Linked DNA regions of Homo sapiens. Changing the gene in region 2 together with the main gene of any one other region gives a genetic interaction. Each region holds a gene or a part of one and is shown on either strand. Other genes may lie near its edges.

The links. A genetic interaction does not mean that the proteins touch.
Region 1: changes in ANXA3 (region 2) and ITGB7 together harm fitness more than expected from each alone (negative genetic interaction), as found in Homo sapiens cells (one study listed by BioGRID).
Region 3: changes in ANXA3 (region 2) and FGFR3 together harm fitness more than expected from each alone (negative genetic interaction), as found in Homo sapiens cells (one study listed by BioGRID).

Annotation. Positions count from the first base shown.
Region 1 is NC_000012.12:53,190,811-53,197,262, reverse strand, and holds the end of ITGB7 (integrin beta-7 isoform a precursor), read left to right. Parts: intron 1-442; coding exon 443-684; intron 685-1,063; coding exon 1,064-1,222; intron 1,223-1,541; coding exon 1,542-1,637; intron 1,638-1,799; coding exon 1,800-1,889; intron 1,890-2,120; exon of another isoform or gene 2,121-2,918; coding exon 2,919-3,065; exon of another isoform or gene 3,066-3,361; coding exon 3,362-3,555; exon of another isoform or gene 3,556-3,899; coding exon 3,900-4,123; exon of another isoform or gene 4,124-4,352; coding exon 4,353-4,572; exon of another isoform or gene 4,573-4,724; coding exon 4,725-4,933; exon of another isoform or gene 4,934-5,243; coding exon 5,244-5,404; exon of another isoform or gene 5,405-5,531; coding exon of another isoform or gene 5,532-5,564; exon of another isoform or gene 5,565-5,626; coding exon 5,627-5,707; 3' UTR 5,708-5,940; downstream 5,941-6,452. UniProt on the Homo sapiens protein: Integrin ITGA4/ITGB7 (alpha-4/beta-7) (Peyer patches-specific homing receptor LPAM-1) is an adhesion molecule that mediates lymphocyte migration and homing to gut-associated lymphoid tissue (GALT).
Region 2 is NC_000004.12:78,547,405-78,554,792, forward strand, and holds the start of ANXA3 (annexin A3), read left to right. Parts: upstream 1-4,365; 5' UTR 4,366-4,455; intron 4,456-7,031; 5' UTR 7,032-7,069; coding exon 7,070-7,084; intron 7,085-7,388. UniProt on the Homo sapiens protein: Inhibitor of phospholipase A2, also possesses anti-coagulant properties. Also cleaves the cyclic bond of inositol 1,2-cyclic phosphate to form inositol 1-phosphate.
Region 3 is NC_000004.12:1,796,282-1,803,304, forward strand, and holds part of FGFR3 (fibroblast growth factor receptor 3 isoform 1 precursor), read left to right. Parts: intron 1-2,972; coding exon 2,973-3,242; intron 3,243-3,465; coding exon 3,466-3,531; intron 3,532-5,085; coding exon 5,086-5,255; intron 5,256-5,338; coding exon 5,339-5,462; intron 5,463-5,553; coding exon 5,554-5,744; intron 5,745-6,632; coding exon of another isoform or gene 6,633-6,783; intron 6,784-7,023.

The DNA.
Region 1 (6,452 bases), on a different chromosome or scaffold from region 2:
TGGAGAGACTGTGCTCAGGCACTCTCTGGGCCTGGACAGCTGCCCTGGGCCTACCAACCTGGAACCTGCCCTGATGCAAGTCTCCCTGGACAAGACCTAGATGCCACTGTCCCTGGCTCCACATTCTGTGCCAACTCTCCTCTATTCAAATTTCCTTCCTTTGCCTCATGCTGCTACCATATCCTATACCCGGGCCTTCTTCCGCCTTCTGGAAGTTCCCATTTGCCCAGGAAGTTGTGTCCTCCTCTTAATGTCTTCTACCTGCCACTTCCCTGAGCCAGTGGTCTCACTGCTTTGCTTGCCAGTTACCAGGTCCCTGCCCCCTAGGTGCACCCTCTCCCATCACCGTCCTCCCCACCCCACTTCCCATAGAGCGCTCTCATGGGTCCTCTGTTGCTGCCCTGCGACTTCTGGCACAACCTTCATTCCTCTCCTCTCCCAGGTTTTGGTTCCTTTGTGGACAAAACGGTGCTGCCCTTTGTGAGCACAGTACCCTCCAAACTGCGCCACCCCTGCCCCACCCGGCTGGAGCGCTGCCAGTCACCATTCAGCTTTCACCATGTGCTGTCCCTGACGGGGGACGCACAAGCCTTCGAGCGGGAGGTGGGGCGCCAGAGTGTGTCCGGCAATCTGGACTCGCCTGAAGGTGGCTTCGATGCCATTCTGCAGGCTGCACTCTGCCAGGTGAGGAGGTGGGGCGGGGATCTGAGCCTGGAGGTCTGTTTGGGAACAGGACTGCCCCTTATGGTTGTGTAGTGCACAGTTCTAGGGGGTGCCATTCATACCATAGTTGCTGTAGTTTGTATATTTAGCAATTACCTGGTGGGTTGGAGTAAAATATCTTGAGGAGGAGGCATGTTTTTCGAATTCACAAGTAAGCCTCCACTAGCAGCAGCCTTCTTTAGGGGGCTGGAGAGAGCAGGGAGAAGCAAGGTACTGGAGGCAAGGGGATGGACAAGCTGACTCAGAGTGAGGCTGGCCACATTCTTGGCTCACAGAGCTGGCTGGGGTGGCTCAAGGGCCATGCCCAGGTGCATAGCCTACCACCCCCACTGTAACTCAGGAGCAGATTGGCTGGAGAAATGTGTCCCGGCTGCTGGTGTTCACTTCAGACGACACATTCCATACAGCTGGGGACGGGAAGTTGGGCGGCATTTTCATGCCCAGTGATGGGCACTGCCACTTGGACAGCAATGGCCTCTACAGTCGCAGCACAGAGTTTGTGAGTCCCTATTGTCACCCTGCCTCTCCCCATTTCAGCCACACCTCTTTCCTTCCAGGACTCCCACTCCCAGCCTTACAGTCCTCACCAGTAACCACCCTGTAGACACCCTGCCATCTTCTCCAGCAGTTCCTCCTTTCAGCTGCCGAGACAGGACACCTTTGTCACCCCATTCCCTACCTCCTTCCTATTCCATAGCAAGCCTCCAGGGCTCCTCCAGCTGGTGGAACCTTGGTTCCTGGATTCCCTGGGCTGAGGGCACCTTGCATGTTGTGGGGGAAACCTGTGGGGCTCACCTTGTCCCTGCTCCCTGTCCCAGGACTACCCTTCTGTGGGTCAGGTAGCCCAGGCCCTCTCTGCAGCAAATATCCAGCCCATCTTTGCTGTCACCAGTGCCGCACTGCCTGTCTACCAGGTGAGAGCTGTCTACATGTCAGATCCCCCAGCCCCATCCCAACCTTTCTCAATTCCCCCAAAGATACATTCTCCGTCCCCCATATGCCCTCCTTCCAGACCTCCGGGAGCCCATTTTCCTAGAGCTGTGACCCACCATTTCCCTTAACTCCCCAAAACTCAGGAGCTGAGTAAACTGATTCCTAAGTCTGCAGTTGGGGAGCTGAGTGAGGACTCCAGCAACGTGGTACAGCTCATCATGGATGCTTATAATGTGAGGGGCCAGGGGAAGGGGAGATGGTGAGGGTGGGCACTAGGGAAAGGTGGAAAGGGGCCCTTGGGTGGGGTGGCAGAACTAAGAGGAAATGGTCACTTTTTGGTCTAACATTCCACAGCTCCTACCTATAGTCTGCATGTGGCTGTCATTAACTGTTCAATCTTACATTCATAAATCTTAAAACATCTGACATGCAGACAGCATGGAGCTCTGCTCTGGGCAAGAAAGGAAAGTTTCAATCACTGAGCTTTTATTTCATGCGCCCACCATCCTAGGTGTACATACTGTTTGCTACTTCATTTAACCCTGCCAAAAGCCTTGCTTCATAACTGTTACCATCCCTATTTTACAGATGAGGAAACCCACACAAGGAGGCTAAGTGACTTGTCCAAGGTCACAAAGATAACAAACAGAAGGGCTGGCATTTGTCCCCAGTCAGTCTGTACATAAACAATGTGAGATCTGGAGCCTGCTTTCACTAAGTTTATAAATAATTCAGAGCTATTCTTCACAAGAACCATAGAATTTTACAGGTAGAAGGAACCATAAAAATTCTTAGTGGTTTAGGTCTTACCTCTGCAACTAGGCTGTAGGCTTCTTGATAACAGGGAGCATCTCCTAAACCTATGGCAAGAAAATCTGAGACAGTATCAAATTTCCCAAGATAAACTCTGTAATGAATCTGCCCTTTAGACCTGGCATGCACCCAGGTTATGTGTCCTGATGTGGGGCTTCACAAACATGGTCTCTGTACATTTACAGCACCTGGCCAGCCTGTGACCCTCAGTGGCCCTTGCTGGCAGCTGCACTGAAATGCTGTATTAGAGGCCTCTGGATCCTGTATGTTCTATGCAAGGTTCTCACGGGTCCTCCCTCCAGAAATGCCTCGACTGGGCAGAATGGAAGGAGCCCCAGGTGGCAGAGGGCAGGGTGCTGGCAGAATTGGGAACACCTGGAGAGGACATAAGGTGGGGTTGGAGTCCTTTTCTGCCTTCACGTGGTTATCCACTCGCTCTCTTCCCATAGAGCCTGTCTTCCACCGTGACCCTTGAACACTCTTCACTCCCTCCTGGGGTCCACATTTCTTACGAATCCCAGTGTGAGGGTCCTGAGAAGAGGGAGGGTAAGGCTGAGGATCGAGGACAGTGCAACCACGTCCGAATCAACCAGACGGTGAGAGCCAGCAAGCACAGGCAGAAGGCGGGCAGGGGGAGGTGGGAGTGGGAAATTAAGCAGGCAGGAAAAGATGGGTGGCAGGTACAGGGAGTGACATGAGAGCCTGAGGTAGTCCTCCATCCATCCTTCCTGGAGCAGTCTGAGTGGCTTCCTCAGGCATGTTTCTAGGAGTTGGGTGTTAACATGACCCCATCCCTTCATTTACTAAGGGGTGAGGTTCTGGATGATTGGTGAGTTTGGGGTATGTGTGTGTGCATGTGTATAACCATGGCCTGATTCCTGCCTCTTCTCAGGTGACTTTCTGGGTTTCTCTCCAAGCCACCCACTGCCTCCCAGAGCCCCATCTCCTGAGGCTCCGGGCCCTTGGCTTCTCAGAGGAGCTGATTGTGGAGTTGCACACGCTGTGTGACTGTAATTGCAGTGACACCCAGCCCCAGGCTCCCCACTGCAGTGATGGCCAGGGACACCTACAATGTGGTGTATGCAGGTGAGGGCCTCCTCTTCCCTTCAACCACCTGGCTCCCAACAACCAACCAACCCTGGCCCGTATTCCTCCGCTGCTTTCCATCCCCCCCACAGGAGTCTCCTCGACATCCCGACTCCCCACTCAGTTTCATCCCTTGAAGCTTCCCATGTATGTCCAGGCCCTCCCCCTGACTGGGGCTCCCTCCACTCTCTCACCCCTCAGTGTTTCACTATACTTAACATCCTTTCAGCTGTTTGTCTGTCTCCAACTCTTTTGAGAACTTGGGTTTAGAGGTTCCTGGGAGAGACAAGTCAGGGGTGATCAAACCCTCTGACCTACTTCTCTCCTTTGCCTTCCCCTTCCAGCTGTGCCCCTGGCCGCCTAGGTCGGCTCTGTGAGTGCTCTGTGGCAGAGCTGTCCTCCCCAGACCTGGAATCTGGGTGCCGGGCTCCCAATGGCACAGGGCCCCTGTGCAGTGGAAAGGGTCACTGTCAATGTGGACGCTGCAGCTGCAGTGGACAGAGCTCTGGGCATCTGTGCGAGTGTGACGATGCCAGCTGTGAGCGACATGAGGGCATCCTCTGCGGAGGTACCTGGAGCCTTGGGGAGAAGGGCGGGGTCTGAGAGGCCTTCCCAAGGCACTTAGGCTCTGGGAATCTCCTGGCATGGAAGGCAAATATCAAAAGATTCCGGTGTATGGGTTAGAGGGTGTGGTTGGCATACTTCAAAAAGATTGGATGCGTGGGCTTGTCGTGCCACATGATGGCCAACTGTGTGTGTGGAGTATGGTTGTCACCCTCTGCATGGCTCTACCCCAGGCTTTGGTCGCTGCCAATGTGGAGTATGTCACTGTCATGCCAACCGCACGGGCAGAGCATGCGAATGCAGTGGGGACATGGACAGTTGCATCAGTCCCGAGGGAGGGCTCTGCAGTGGGCATGGACGCTGCAAATGCAACCGCTGCCAGTGCTTGGACGGCTACTATGGTGCTCTATGCGACCAATGCCCAGGCTGCAAGACACCATGCGAGAGACACCGGTGAGGCCTCAGGTCTTGCATCTTGGGAGCAGGGGCACAGTGGGGCTTGTTGAGCTACTCCCATCTGCCTACTCTCCGTCCTGCTTGTAGTTGGGCAAGGGGCATTGGGTGACAACTGCCCAGCTGGTAACCTATTGGCATCTACTACACAGGGACTGTGCAGAGTGTGGGGCCTTCAGGACTGGCCCACTGGCCACCAACTGCAGTACAGCTTGTGCCCATACCAATGTGACCCTGGCCTTGGCCCCTATCTTGGATGATGGCTGGTGCAAAGAGCGGACCCTGGACAACCAGCTGTTCTTCTTCTTGGTGGAGGATGACGCCAGAGGCACGGTCGTGCTCAGAGTGAGACCCCAAGAAAGTAAGTGGGCAGGGATGCCACAAACCCTGGAAGTTTGATGGGCAGGGTCTCAACTCTGGGGATGCAGAGTGAAGATAATGGGAAACAGGCTGGGGGCTGAAGCAGAACTGTGAATCCAGGACAAAGGCAGAGGCAATTGAGCAAGTGGACGAGGCTAAGGCCCTGGGCGGTGAGGATAACCTTGGACCTCCCTGGGTTCCCTTTGCTTTCAGTGACAGACAGGGTTGGACAGGCTGGACACACTGTGAGCAACTGATGATCTGTCCCTATGCTCCAGCTCCCACAAGTGTGTCTGGTTTCTTGTTCACAGAGGGAGCAGACCACACGCAGGCCATTGTGCTGGGCTGCGTAGGGGGCATCGTGGCAGTGGGGCTGGGGCTGGTCCTGGCTTACCGGCTCTCGGTGGAAATCTATGACCGCCGGGAATACAGTCGCTTTGAGAAGGAGCAGCAACAACTCAACTGGAAGCAGGTGAGGAGACTTCCTGGTTAGGCCCCTTTTTAGCTGTTCCCCCACCACAAGACCAGCCCTGATTCCTCCCACTGGGTTCCCCCAGCCCCTGGCACATGTAACCAACCCCTCTGCTAACTTCCATCAGCTCCTAGGATTCGGCTCAAGGCTGGCCTCTTAGGTCTAGAAAGGGGACGAGGAATCCTGGGATTTTTGCTTATAATCTGCAACATCTTTCTCCAGGACAGTAATCCTCTCTACAAAAGTGCCATCACGACCACCATCAATCCTCGCTTTCAAGAGGCAGACAGTCCCACTCTCTGAAGGAGGGAGGGACACTTACCCAAGGCTCTTCTCCTTGGAGGACAGTGGGAACTGGAGGGTGAGAGGAAGGGTGGGTCTGTAAGACCTTGGTAGGGGACTAATTCACTGGCGAGGTGCGGCCACCACCCTACTTCATTTTCAGAGTGACACCCAAGAGGGCTGCTTCCCATGCCTGCAACCTTGCATCCATCTGGGCTACCCCACCCAAGTATACAATAAAGTCTTACCTCAGACCACAGCTGTCACTTTGCTTTACCTCATCAAGGCCAAAGCAGACTGTTTATAGCCTGGGCCTCGGGAAAGCTCTTGTCCATCCTCCTCTTGCCACCTGAGGGCAGGGAGAGGTGCCCAAGCGCGAATGTGCAGGAAACTCCCGGGGTGCACCCTGGGACCCAGGAAGCCAGGTCTGGAAAGGGCCTATGAATTCTCAAGTGCTGCGGATGCAGGGGGGTCCCAGGTCAGAGACACTGCATCTGTTGGTGTCTAGCCTCCTTCCGTCCTGCTGCGTGTGCTTTTTCGTCTTGCTCAGAACTGATGCCCTGTTTTTGCTCCTACTTGCTTGTTCCTCTGTGGAGAAGGGGTTTTAAAATGGCTTATAGGGTGCTGGAAGTTGTGGGGTGATTATGTAGGGAGAAAAAAGGAAAACAACTAAAACCAGTATGAAAAAGCTTCCCCAAAGAGGAGATAGTATGTAGAAAAGCCCCATTTTCCTTTTATTTAAATATCCTAAATATATCACGAAGGA
Region 2 (7,388 bases):
ACTGCTACCATCTCGGCTCACTGCAACCTCCCTGCCTGATTCTCCTGCCTCAGCCTGCCGAGTGCCTGCGATTGCAGGCGCGCGCCACCACGCCTGACTAGTTTTCGTATTTTTTTGGTGGAGACGGGGTTTCGCTGTGTTGGCCGGGCTAGTCTCCAGCTCCTAACCGCAAGTGATCCGCCAGCCTCGGCCTCCCGAGGTGCGGGGATTGCAGACGGTGTCTGGTTCACTCAGTGCTCAATGGTGCCCAGGCTGGAGTGCAGTGGCGTGATCTCGGCTCGCTACAACCTCCACCTCCCAGCCGCCTGCCTTGGCCTCCCAAAGTGCCGAGATTACAGCCTCTGCCCGGCCGCCACCCCGTCTGGGAAGTGAGGAGCGTCTCTGCCTGGCCGCCCATCGTCTGGGATGTGAGGAGCCCCTCTGCCTGGCTGCCCAGTCTGGAAAGTGAGGAGCGTCTCTGCCCGGCCGCCATCCCATCTAGGAAGTGAGGAGCGCCTCTTCCGGGCCGCCATCCCGTCTAGGAAGTGAGGAGCGTCTCTGCCCGGCAGCCCATGGTCTGAGATGTGGGGAGCGCCTCTGCCCTGCCGCCCCGTTTGGGATGTGAGGAGCGTCTTTGCCCGGCCGCCCCGTCTGAGAAGTGAGGAGACCCTCTGCCTGGCAACCGCCCCGTCTGAGCAGTGAGGAGCCCCTCCGCCCGGCAGCCGCCCTGTCTGAGAAGTGAGGACCCCCTCTGCCCGGCAGCCACCCCGTCTGGGAAGTGAGGAGCGTCTCCGCCCGGCAGCCACCCCGTCCGGGAGGGAGGTGGGGGGTCAGCCCCCACCAGGCCAGCCACCCCGTCCCGGAGGGAGGTGGGGGTTAGCCCCCCACCCGGCCAGCCGCCTTGTCTGGGAGGGAGGTGGGGGGTCAGCCCCCCGCCCGGCCAGCCGCCCCGTCCGGGAGGTGAGGGGTGCCTCTGCCCGGCCGCCCCTACTGGGAAGTGAGGAGCCCCTCTGCCCGGCCAGCCGCCCCATCTGGGAGGGAGGTGGGGGGGTCAGCCCCCTGCCCGGCCAGCCGCCCCGTCAGGGAGGTGAGGGGCGCCTCTGCCCGGCTGCCCTTACTGGGAAGTGAGGAGCCCCTCTGCCCAGCCACCACCCTGTCTGGGAGGTGTACCCAACAGCTCATTGAGAACGGGCCATGATGACAATGGCGGTTTTGTGGAATAGAAAGGGGGGAAAGGTGGGGAAAGGATTGAGAAATCGGATGGTTGCCGTGTCTGTGTGGAAAGAAGTAGACATGGGAGACTTTTCATTTTGTTCTGTACTAAGAAAAATTCTTCTGTCTTGGGATCCTGTTGATCTGTGACCTTACCCCCAACCCTGTGCTCTCTGAAACATGTGCTGTGTCCACTCAGGTTTGAATGGATTAAGGGCGGTGCAAGATGTGCTTTGTTAAACAGAGGCTTGAAGGCAGCATGCTCCTTAAGAGTCATCACCACTCCCTAATCTCAAGTACCCAGGGACACAAACACTGCGGAAGGCCGCAGGGTCCTCTGCCTAGGAAAACCAGAGACCTTTGTTCACTTGTTTATCTGCTGACCTTCCCTCCACTATTGTCCTGTGACCCTGCCAAATCCCCCTCTGCGAGAAACACCCAAGAATGATCAATTAAAAAATAAATAAATAAATAAATAAATAAATAAATAAATAATAAAAAAAATAATAATAAAATGTGAAATAATTAGGAAGTGGTTAATTTTGAGTACCTATTACCTTTGCTTTTAACGTAATTTATTCAATTGTATTTATTTAACTTGTAATAATGTCTACATTAATACTGGCTGTGAAATAACTGAAAATTCAGGAACTGGCTTTCACATGCTGGTATAACCCAGCTCCAACACATCACTGTAACAGCAGCTATGTATTCAACAGCCACAATCACGTAGTCGGTCTTTCCTTCACATTTTACCATATGTTCTAAATATATCTCAATAACTTTGCTTTAAAAATTTGTATTTGGCTGTTAAATTGTTCTTTTGATCAGGATGCTATAGGAAAATTCCCTTTTTACTAACCTGTAAAGTTCTGTGTATTCAGAATAATGAAACTTTTATTAAATAACCTTTTCTGAATTCTTTTTCTGGATAACCATAAACCTGGATTCTAACAGCATCCTCTAATATTTCCTTCCAAGAAAACTCATCCTTTGGGGAAAAAATAGTTTTATAATATGCCATAGCATGTTTCTAATATAAATGGTGGTAATTGGGCTGTTGATACAACTAGAAAAACTCAAAAAATGATAAAAGTGCATTTGTTAAAGTTACCATCAGGAAATCAAAGAAGTTAAATCCTGAATGGTTTAAACAATTAAAATAAAGCCTACATGTAAAACATCACCTGTTACTCATTTTCTTCTGGCTATAAATCTAGCCCTATGACTTCCTAGTTGCCTGGAATACAACTCGTAGAACTTACTGAGTCCCTCTGAGCCTGTGTCTGTATCTGCAAAATAGAGGCAATCATACCTAATTTACAGCTAGTTGGTAAGCATGACATAGATCACGTACGTCAAGTGCATTACCCAGTGTCTGGCACAAATAATAATAAATATTTTCCCCCATTTCATGCTAATCTCAGAATTTTTTGAGGTAACATGGGATTTAACAGTTTATTGTGGTGAAGTCTGAATGGGAGTCAGGAATTACTATGCAGAACAGAATGCAGAACACCATCCTATCTTCTCTCTTGCAGAAAGCCCATCACTTCGGATTTGTAGATCTGAGAGGGCTCCCAGGGCACTGGCCTTTTAAGCATGACCACTTCTGCCTTCTCCGTTGTAGCTCCTCTTAAACCAGTGGTTCTCAAACTTTAGGATGCATCAGAATCACTTGATGGCGCAGGGTTTCAGGGAATTTGCATTTCTAATGAGTTTCTAGGTCCCAGGACTCAGCCTTAAGGACCAAGACTGTAATCTCTTCAACTCACACTCAAGCAGCTCCAGCCATGCTTATCCTCTAAAAATCCTCTGTGCTCCACCTGTTCACCCTACCTCCTCTCAACTCCTAGAAACCAGTGATTTTTTTTACTGTCTCCGTAGTGTTGCCTTTTCTGGAATGTCATATAGTTGGAATCATAGTGTGTAGCATTTTCAAATGGGCTTCTTTCTCTTAATAATATGCATTTAAGTTTCTTCCATGTGTTTTTATAGCTTGATAGCTAATTTCTTTTCAGTGCTGAATAAAATTCTATTGTATAGATGTATCACAGTTTATTTATCCATTCACCTACGAATTACATCTTGGTTGCTTCCGACTTTTGATACTTAGGAGTAAAGCTACTATAAACATCCATGTGCAGGTGTTTGTGGAGGTAAGTTTTCAAATCCTTCGGGTGAATACATAAGGGGCCCAGTGATGACTGAGTGCAAGCAATACTTTTTACTTACGTGGTCTCGGATAAATCACTTCACTTTTCTAAGCCTCAGTTTTCTCTTCTGCAAATTGTGATAAAAATAGCACCTCCTAGAGTTCCCTTGAAGATAAAAGAGGTAAGGTATTCAAGCACTTCAATGCCTGATACTCAATACATGGTAACTTTTTCTACATCCTTCAGCACACAACTGCTCATAATTCCCTCATACGAGTAGGGCTTTAACCTTTTAGCCTCGATGATTTGTTTTGCTCTTCCAAATGCCTAGAATGCCCTTCCAGGTTACCGTCTCCCTGAGCCTTTGGTTGGAATCCTCATACCAGAGGGTCAACACGTTTAGTAGAGGAATTACTGAAATAGTTGGGTTCCAAACACTAGCTCTGGCATTTACCTTCTGTGTAAATTGGCTGAAGTTACCCAACGTCTCTGTATCTCAATTTCCTCATCTATAAAATGGGGATAATAGTATCTACCTCATAGAGTTGTTGTCGGAGCCATTTTAATGGCAAAAACCGCAATTACTTTTGCACCAACCTAATAAATCCGCGCATATTCTTAAAGAAGTTAGAACAGTGCCTGGTACAAAGTAAATGCCAGATCAATGTTATTAATGTTAGGTGTCCGCCACCTATGCCACGCAGTGAGTTCCTTAGGTATAGGGACAGTCTAATCTCCGAATCCACACTGCCTAGAACAAAATAAGCATTGCAGTACATTTGAGAAAGTAAAGGTGTAGTGGAAACCGAGAGCGAAATGAGGGCGTAGGGAGAAAAGGGTGGGGAAGCTTAGAGACCGGTGAGGGAGCAGAGCTGGGGCGCCTGTGTACAGGGATAGAGCCCGGCGGCAGCAGGGCGCGGCTTCCCTTTCCCGGGGCCTGGGGCCGCAATCAGGTGGAGTCGAGAGGCCGGAGGAGGGGCAGGAGGAAGGGGTGCGGTCGCGATCCGGACCCGGAGCCAGCGCGGAGCACCTGCGCCCGCGGCTGACACCTTCGCTCGCAGTTTGTTCGCAGTTTACTCGCACACCAGTTTCCCCCACCGCGCTTTGGGTAAGTTCAGCCTCCCGGCGCGTCCCCGCGAGCCTCGCCCACAGCCGCCTGCTGACGGGTGGCTTGGGGAGGTCGCGGCGCCTCGCCCAGTTCCCCCGCGAGTGCAGCTCGACCCTGGGCAGGGCTGGCGGCTGGCGCCCGCGCCCGGCCCCAACCCAGCTGCGTGGGTGGGGAGCTGGAGGGACCTCAGTCCTGCATTTCAGAGTCGAGGAGACTGGGCCCACGGGGGGGAAAGTGCCGTGCCATGGGTGGGTCACCCAGGTCTTGGTGGGGCCCAAGCTGATACTCAGCTGTCCTCGCTCCCTGAAAGCTTCGCTTATTACAGCTAGCAGCGTAAGGGATCCACTTAGCCATCTCGGCCTCCCCAGTCCTAAAGGTCTAGGGGACAGAAAAAAGCTGGGAGTCGGAAGGTTCCTCGGGTCCCCGGCATGGCAGACGGGGCTGGCTCAGAGGTCTGCTCTGTGGACTTGGAATCGCACCCATCCTGTGAGCATCTTCTCCCCCTCACATAGGCAATTTATTTTATTTTACTTATTTTTTTTAGAAGGTAGAAAACAGTGGATTTGCATATTGAGGGTTGGAAGTTCAAGAAGTTTGCTTTTTCCTGAAAAGACTAACCGTTTTCTTTGCAACAGAATCCTATTGACTAGATATGAATCATTCCCTTGGTATTTGAGTCACCAGGTGGAAGATTTGGATACTTGATTGCAGATGACCATATATAGGAAAGTATGCAGGTGCTGGGAGGTTCTGGGTCGCTGGAGGCCCCTCTGGCTACTGATACGAAATTGCATAGCCCAGGCCGAATTCTTTCCAAGGATTTGTGTTCAGCACTGACAGCAAGACCCTGCCCTCCGGGAAAGATACATTTACTATGTTCACCAACATCATTTTTTAAAATGTAACTAATTAAAACGTTACTCCATGAAGATACCACCTTTGGTTTTCACGAAGACGGAAAACTTCAGACTGACCAGAAAGGGAATTTTTAAATGTAAAGAAAACCAGAATCTTGTTCCCAGAACTCTGTGGTTGTGTAGAGAAACCTGTTTAGAAATAACCGTAGAGGAGGAAGTAAAAGGAAATGATGTAATCCCTTTCAGGAAAGGATATATTGAAATTCTGTTTAAGTCATTTGGCCTTCGCTGTGGAGTAATTCTTTACATCTTAAAAGTTAAATGATAGATTAGTAATAATTCTTAATAATTTTCCAGTTCTGCTGGATCAATGCATATTAAGTGTCAGATTTGGTCAGGTGTGGGCCAGGCAGCAGATTAAGGCAGAAGCATGGGGGTTAGGTTCATACCTTTAGAGTCTAGCTGCCTAGATGCAGTAGGGGTCCACTCACTAGCTGTGTGACTGTGGGACATTACCATACCTCTCTGGGCTCCAGCTTCTTCATATGCAAAACGAAGATGTAATACCTAACTCACTGGATGATTGTGCGGCTTGTATTAAATCATTCATTTAATCAATAAGTTTTTTTTTTAAATATCTACCGTGCACCAGTGCACACAGATAAGAAGAATCTCCAGCCCTGTGAAACTGACCTCGTTCAATGCTGGCAACACCCCCTTCTTCACTTTTTACAGATGAGGAAATTGAGGCCCAAAGAAATTGTGTTTAGCTTTAAGAGGCAAAATGAGAACCAATAATGCCTTGTTTTCACTGTACAGATGGTTTGACTTCTGATTTTTAGACTTCAGAATAGTTTATCTGGCTGTAACCCCTCATAAGTCAAAGAGCATGTATTTAGAGAGATGCAGTATTAGACTCTAACTGGAGAGTTGACTGCCCTAGGCTACAGAGAGCCTGAAAAAACCAAGGTGAAATATTTCCAGAGACTAATAGTGTAATTTCCCATTGAACTTTTCTCTGGGGGTGTCAGGGAATTTTTAGAATATTTTGTTCCCAGGAAGGGTGGGAGCAACTTGCATTTCTAAATCAACCCTGGAGATATGCCAGCATGTTTGAATAATATCTATTTAAGAAAAATGTGTCTGGCTTCCCAATCAAAGAACTGTGCCTTTCACCTCTGCACCCCACCAAGGACTGGACCACCTCCTCAAAGAGCAGATGTGTCTTTATAACAGACTGTAGGCTTGGAGCCTTGTAAAATGTACATGGAGTTTCACAATCAAGCACAAGGAATCCAACTGAAGGCAGCTAAACTTTGTGTTGATTTGGTGAGGAGGAGTAAAATCCTGTGTTTTTGTTGTTATTGATCCCCGTAGTGGTAGCCTGTCAGTAATCAGCAGAGTTCTCCTGGACTTTAAATAAGTCAAAAATTGGCTTTTCAGGAAGTATATTTGTAAGCATCTTAAGTACAAAGATTTTTTTCTGTCTCTTGTCTTGAAGTCCTCACAGGTCTAGCACAGTCCCTTGCATATGGTAGATGCTCAGTAAATGTTTGTTTAGCAAATGGGATACCCAATGTCAGATATATGCTCTTCCTGAGAAGGTTTTTCTGTGAATGTTGACATCTGTTTTCTGGATTCAAGATTAAGGGTTGGACTAAGATTATTGTGTTCTGAATCACATATTGATACCATTTACTAATTGTTTTCTTTTAATAGATTAGTGTGATCTCAGCTCAAGGCAAAGGTGGGATATCATGGCATCTATCTGGGTAAGTAAAAATTAAGCCTTCACAACACAGTAACATATATGAGTCAAACCAAAACACAGAAGGTCAAGATAGCAAGGAAAATTTTAGGAAAGTTTTTAAGTTTATCTGGCAAAATTAACATGCTAGAAAAGCCAGAGGATGTCAAAAATAATAAAATATTTTTAAAAATGCATTGTAAAGTTACATAGTTAAAATAACTTATGATGACACCAAGGCGGAAAGGTCAAAATCAGATAATAAATTTAGTATATAATTTGGGAATTTATTATATGAAAAAGATGACATATCAGAGAAGAAGAGACGG
Region 3 (7,023 bases), about 77 Mb from region 2:
TTAGGCCAGATAACCCTGGCAAGCCCTCTTTAGCCTGCCCAGCCTCCAGATCCCTTTTTTCCGGACTTTATTGTGAAACTCCAGGTGGGGAGACAGGGAGGCTGGACTTTTGGGGGCCCCCTCCTCTTAGGCTATTTTATAGCTCCTACCTGGCAATACCTCCTGTACCCCAGAGAGCTGCAGAGAACTTCATGTGCATCCGAAACCAGAATGTGTTGTTTCCTGACCCCAGGCCCTCATCTCACCCCAAAACCCAAATAAACCCCTGGGGCAGCCAGCTCCGGAAGCGAGTCTGGATTTGATCCTTGTTCTCTGGGGTCAACCCGAGGGGCTTATGATGGAGCAAGGCTCCCCCATCCTCTCAGCCATGCTCCCTCACATGCACTGGGCCTCCACTGCAGAGACCCAGAGCCTGGAGAAAGGTTCCCCAGGCCAGAGTTTGGCCGTCCCCAGCACCCTGCCTAATGGACATCAGTCTTGGGGCCAGAGACCCAGGGCAGGGAGCGCCTCTCACCCCTACCCTCACTCCTGCAGCCATTTCAGGGCCTGGTGCCCTCCCTGAGCTCCTGGGCCTGTGGGGTGGGATTTTTACTTTGTGCCACAGTGGGGGAAACTGAGGTACAGGACCAGTGAGTGGCAGAGTTGTGGAGACTCTGGGACACAGCAGAGGGCTGTCGTTGGCATGTGGAGCCCAAGTTGAGGTCGGCACTGTGTGGGGTTGGGGCGCCGGCAGGAGCACGTGTTGTGGGATCCATAGAAGGGTGGGAGGTGGGACGCGTTGCCTCCTACCCCGCCTTGGGTACAGCAGGAGTTTTGTCTCCAACGTGTTTGGGCACCAGTGTCTGTGTGGTGTCAGTGGGGCCTCCCTTTTGTGGATCAAGAAAGAAAGAACCCTTCCTAGGGCTGCTGGGGGGCTATAGCTCTCCCCATGCCTGGCAGCTGGGTGGGGTATGGGGGCTCCACCCAACTGCTGACTTCCCAGTGGGAGTCAGACCCTGAACTTATAGCACCCACTCATGCCCCGTGTCACACTGTCCTTCACCTGGTGCTCGCCACCCAGCCCCTGCTGGGGTACCCTGGCCTCTGCTGGCACCTAGCAGGCAGGCAGTGGGGGGGGCAGTCAGGGCTGCACCCTCCCCACCACACACGGGCAGATGGCCACTGGTGTGGCTGGCCTGGGGCTGCTGTGTCCCCCGTCCCCCCGTGCTGGACCAGGCTGAAGCAAATACTTGTGTGGATGGCTTGACCTGTTGTCGCCACTCAGACCAAACCGGAACCAACCGGCTGTTGCCCTTGGGCCAGGGCCTGCAGCTGAGGCTGCCATAACCAGCCTGTTCTCGGCCTTCTGGGGGGCCTCGAGCAGCTCCCAGCTCTGGGTGGTCCCCACAAGACACTGGCCAGGACCGGAGGGCTGGAGGTCAGGCCAGGAGCCCCCCTGACTGCGGGGTCCCTACAGGGGCAGTCCTTGAGCTGTGGGTCCCGGTGGGGCGAGGGCTCCTTCGGATGCTTCAGGGGATGAGTGTGGGCCCTTCTGGCTGGCAGGGTCACCCTGGGCACTAGGCGTGTGTGGCTGGATCAGGTGGGTTGGGCAGAAGAGGGCCTGGCCGGGCAGCCAGGGACTGGTGTGGCCAGAGTGGGCAGCTGGGCCCCCGAATCTAGGCCACGCGTCTGCAGAATGACAAGTGATGGCGCAACCCGCCCAGCTGGGTCTGAAGAAGGAGGCTGCCTGGGGGACCACCCACCCCCGTCCCGGCCCCAAGCCCGGGACGCCTGCCTGCATGCATTGTCTGGCCCTGGCAGGGAAGCCTAGGGGCGATTGTCCCCCCAGCCCTGCCCATGGTGTGTCCTTGGGTCACAGGCTTTGGTGGCTCTGGGGAGCTGGGCAGCTACTGGGGAGGGACCCAGGGGCCACCTGCACATCTGCCCCTGTGGGTGGGCCCCCACCCCAGCTTCTCAGCCCCCAGGGAGGGGCCAGGGCTGCTGACCTGCCCTGGCTCTCACAGCTTCCTGCCCCCAGCCTGGTCGTCCTCTGTGAGGGGGCCCCAGTCCCCCTGCAGGCAGCAGGACTCCACCCCCCGGCCCCCTTGAGGGCCCGCCTGGGCCTCCCCACTCCCCGGCCTGTGAGACCCACTTGGCCGGACCCAGCGCCGTGTTTGTACTTTGCTCTTCTCGGTATGTTTTCCGTCATGACCGCCGTGTGGAGCTTCCATAGGAGCTGCAGGATACAGAACCTTGCCCACCCCAAGGAGCCCCCACCCCCGCCCCGGCCCCCTCGCGCTGCTCCGGCCTGTGCTCTGACCGGTGAACCCGCGCATCGCCCCCCAGACCGTCCACACGGCCACGTGACCCTGCACCTCCTTCCTTCTCGCCTGTTCTGTTCCCTGGCTGTCCATCTGAACTGCTTTTCAGGCTCATATGGGGTGCGGGGGCTACTGAGGACGGACCCCTCCTGGGGTGAATCTGCACCACGAGGGGGCTGGCTGGCCAACCCTGGCACCCCCTCTGAGCTCCATTTCAGTCAGAGGCCAGCAAAGGGCAGCCTGTCCCCTTTGCCCGCAGCACCTGCCCGTCGTGGTGCCGCCTGTGAGACAAGCATGGATTTTATGTTTCCAAGCAATTGAACAAATTAAAAGAACGAAGAGTCACATTTTGTGACACTTTGAGATTTGAATTCTCCGTGTCCATGAGTGAAGCATCATGGGGCCACTGCTGTGGGGTTGGCTGCAGGTTGTGTGGGGAAGGCGGCTGTCACACCGAGGCAGACCGGAGTCCTTGGGACAGACTGGTTGGCAAAGCTGAAGATAGAGACCTTTGGCCCTTTTGGGACACAGTTTCCAGCCCCTGGTCTGGTGGGACCCTGGATCTGGGTCAGAGCCTTCCTCACTCAGGGCCGCCGAGGCTTCCACTGCTGTGTCTGTAAACGGTGCCGGGTTTGGGGGTGCCTGCCTCATGGTTGCCCATCTTCCCCACAGAAGTCCCGGGCCCAGAGCCCGGCCAGCAGGAGCAGTTGGTCTTCGGCAGCGGGGATGCTGTGGAGCTGAGCTGTCCCCCGCCCGGGGGTGGTCCCATGGGGCCCACTGTCTGGGTCAAGGATGGCACAGGGCTGGTGCCCTCGGAGCGTGTCCTGGTGGGGCCCCAGCGGCTGCAGGTGCTGAATGCCTCCCACGAGGACTCCGGGGCCTACAGCTGCCGGCAGCGGCTCACGCAGCGCGTACTGTGCCACTTCAGTGTGCGGGTGACAGGTGAGCTCTGGGGCCACGCCAGCTACAGAAAGGAGCCGAGTGCCGGGCTCCCTGAGTCCCTGCGTGGGTCAGGAGCGGCTGGGGGTCTCTCTGGTCATTGGTGGAGAGGAGGGCACCCCCAGGAAGTGCTGCCCAAATGGGGGACCCTGCCCCATCTGGGAGGGGCACCTGGGGGCCTCCTGGGGCAGGTTGGGCATTGGTTGCGGCCATCTCTGCCTTGCAGACGCTCCATCCTCGGGAGATGACGAAGACGGGGAGGACGAGGCTGAGGACACAGGTGTGGACACAGGTAGGAGCAGGGTCCAGGGTTCAGGCCAGCCGGGGTGGGGCCCGCTGCCACCGCCAAGCCCTGCCCTTCACAGGCAGCTGAGGGACTAAGGCCCCGGAACAACCTCCCTGGGGTCACCCCGAAGGTCTGGTCCCCTCAGGATACAGGAGGGGCTGGGTCACTGACATGGCTCTAGATGCCCCACCCTGGTGGCAGGGCTGGGGTGCAAGGGGACACCGTGTTGCTGATGGGGAGACTGAGGCACAGGGCCCTGGGGGTTCCAGGAGCAGGAGGAGGCCAGGGCTGGCCTGTGGGGCTCTGGTGTTGGCTATAGGTGAGGTGGACCCCGCAGACATTAGCGCAGCAGGGCAGGGCACTCAGGTGGCTGCCGTGGGGTGGATGGACCCGGGGTGAGGGCGCCGGGGCACCTGCCACAACCAGTGGCGGGCAGGGTGGCTGGCAGGAGGGTGGCTGGTGGGTGGGCTGCGGCTGTGAGAGAGCAGTCGGGGACGATGCCTGGCGTCCCGGCCTGGAACGGTGGCAGGTGGACTTTGCCAAGTTGTAGGGTGGGGAGGTGGGGCTTCTGGTTTTGGAGGGAGCTCTGAGGGGAGTGCGTGCAGGTGAGGGTCATCGTGGCACAGACATGGGGGGCAGTTACGACTTGCGGACTGATGGTGTGTGCGCTGGGTCCCTGGGCCAGTGGGGTAAGCAGGTGAGGAAGGGAGGCTGAGTCCATGAGAGAAACAGCTGGGGGAACTCACCCTGGGGGTCTCCAGGAGGCCTGGGAGGGAGCTCAGCACCGTGGGGTGCCTCTTTCCAGCCTGTGTCCACACTGCTGCTTGCTGGGCCTCAGTGCCCCTGATGGGCGTGTGCCTGGAGGGGGCTGGCAGTGAGCTCACTGAGGGGAGGGCTGCTTCCCTCCTGGGGAATGCCAGCCCATCCTTGCCTGGAGTCCCGGCAGGAAGGCAGCACCAGCCCTGAGGAAGGAGAAAAACCAGTTGGGCTGTGAGAGGGGTGGTGGGAGCCCTGGACATCGAGATGGGAGGAGGCAGGGCCTCCAGGGTGCCACCGTCTCTGGGTGCCCGCCAGACTTGGAGCTCTGCAGAGGGTGGTGTAGGGTCTTGATTTCCGTGGGCCCATGCTGCCCAGCTGCCTCCAAGGCTCCTGGCTCTGCAGGCGACTGGGCTCCTCTCCTGGTAAACTGCTCCCAGGTCCTGGCTTGTCCACTAGATGGGCCTGCCCCCTGGGTCTTCAGTCTCCCCGTTGGTGGGCCTGGCCCTGGCACGCCTCTCTGGGCAGGTGGGCTCCCCTGGACAATGCCCTGTGCCCTGTGACTTCACAGGTCCGGGCAGAGCACCCTGGAGGGGAGGGGAGGGGACACACGGCCCAGCTCTGAGAAAGCCCCGGGGAGGGGACAAGATGTGGAGGCTCCTGGGAACCTCATCCCGCCCTCTTCCTACACAGGACGGGAAACTGAGGCTGGGGATGGGCAGGGGCAGCTCTGGGAAGGGGGTTGTTCAGAGGGGCCTCTGCTCCCACTCGGGTCATGGCCTTCACACGCACCTCGGCCCGCAGGGGCCCCTTACTGGACACGGCCCGAGCGGATGGACAAGAAGCTGCTGGCCGTGCCGGCCGCCAACACCGTCCGCTTCCGCTGCCCAGCCGCTGGCAACCCCACTCCCTCCATCTCCTGGCTGAAGAACGGCAGGGAGTTCCGCGGCGAGCACCGCATTGGAGGCATCAAGGTGGGCGCGGCGGGGTGGCTCTGGGCCTGGCAGGCGCGGTGGTTGCTGCCTCCGCTCACTCACCCGCCCGCGTCCCGGTGCAGCTGCGGCATCAGCAGTGGAGCCTGGTCATGGAAAGCGTGGTGCCCTCGGACCGCGGCAACTACACCTGCGTCGTGGAGAACAAGTTTGGCAGCATCCGGCAGACGTACACGCTGGACGTGCTGGGTGAGGGCCCTGGGGCGGCGCGGGGGTGGGGGCGGCAGTGGCGGTGGTGGTGAGGGAGGGGGTGGCCCCTGAGCGTCATCTGCCCCCACAGAGCGCTCCCCGCACCGGCCCATCCTGCAGGCGGGGCTGCCGGCCAACCAGACGGCGGTGCTGGGCAGCGACGTGGAGTTCCACTGCAAGGTGTACAGTGACGCACAGCCCCACATCCAGTGGCTCAAGCACGTGGAGGTGAATGGCAGCAAGGTGGGCCCGGACGGCACACCCTACGTTACCGTGCTCAAGGTGGGCCACCGTGTGCACGTGGGTGCCGCCGCTGGGGCTCCTGGGCTGGCCCCAAGGGTGCCCCTTGGCTGCGGGTTGCGTGAGGATTTGGGTCTAGGGGTTGGAGCTTCGGGGGCAGAAGCTGTGGGGGTGCTTGTGGGGCCAAGTCTCAGCCACCCCACACCTCAGGGCCATAGGCAGCTGCGTTGGGACCCGTTTCCGTGTCTGCAGAGGGCCAGCCTCAGCCACTGAAGTCCCTGACATGGAGCTGCCCACGGGCTTCTTGGGGGTGGGTGCGGCTTGGGCAGCAGTGGTGCCCCAGGACAGGAGGGCAGTGTGGCCAAGCCCTCCAGGCCCCCTCTGGGCCTCAGAGGCGGTGGCTGAGCCCCGACCTGGCCGATTGGCTCTCGTCAGCTGTGTGCAGTGGGGCCCGAGCTCACTGTCTGCCCGCCTCCTGAAGCCCTTAGCTTTGTTCCCATGGCTGCCGGGTGGGGGCCACTGAATTGGGACGGTTGCGACACTCAAAGCCCAAAGAGAAACATCTGTTCAGAGAGAAGACGGTCTCTTGGGGGCGGGGAGCAGGCGCAGGGCGAGGGTGGAGTCCAGACCCCGCCCAGAGAGGCCGCCTCGGGCCCTGTCCAGGGTGCAGGTTCTGCAAGAGCCCGGGGGAGGGCAGGCCAGTGACCAGAGGTTGTCTGAGGGTCTGGGCTGGGTTGTTGGGGTGGAGGCAGAGACGTGCATCCTGTGAAACCACAGCCACCGTGAAGTGCCTCCACGCCTCCTCCAGGCAGCCTTTGGGGCTGACGCAGCCCAGCCTCGATCTGTACCTTGGGGGTCTCCCACATCCTGCCTCGTGCCCGGCGGGGCTGCCTCGGGGGCGTGCCTGAGCCGGGTCTCTTGTCCCCGCAGTCCTGGATCAGTGAGAGTGTGGAGGCCGACGTGCGCCTCCGCCTGGCCAATGTGTCGGAGCGGGACGGGGGCGAGTACCTCTGTCGAGCCACCAATTTCATAGGCGTGGCCGAGAAGGCCTTTTGGCTGAGCGTTCACGGGCCCCGAGCAGGTAACGACTCTGTCCCATGCCGGCCGGCACAAGAGCTCCAGCTCCAAGGCCCTGGCCGCGCGCCCTGCACGCCCCGCACGCCCAGCCCTGCTCGCTCCCGCCCCGGCTCGCGCTCCACTCGGGGCCGCCTCGGCAAGGCTGGCAGCTCCAGCCTCCACGGTGACCGCCCGCTTCGAGCCCTGTGGCCTGCGCCGACCCTTCCCGCACGCCTGCGACCCCCACAGGAGGTGCCCGGTGCCC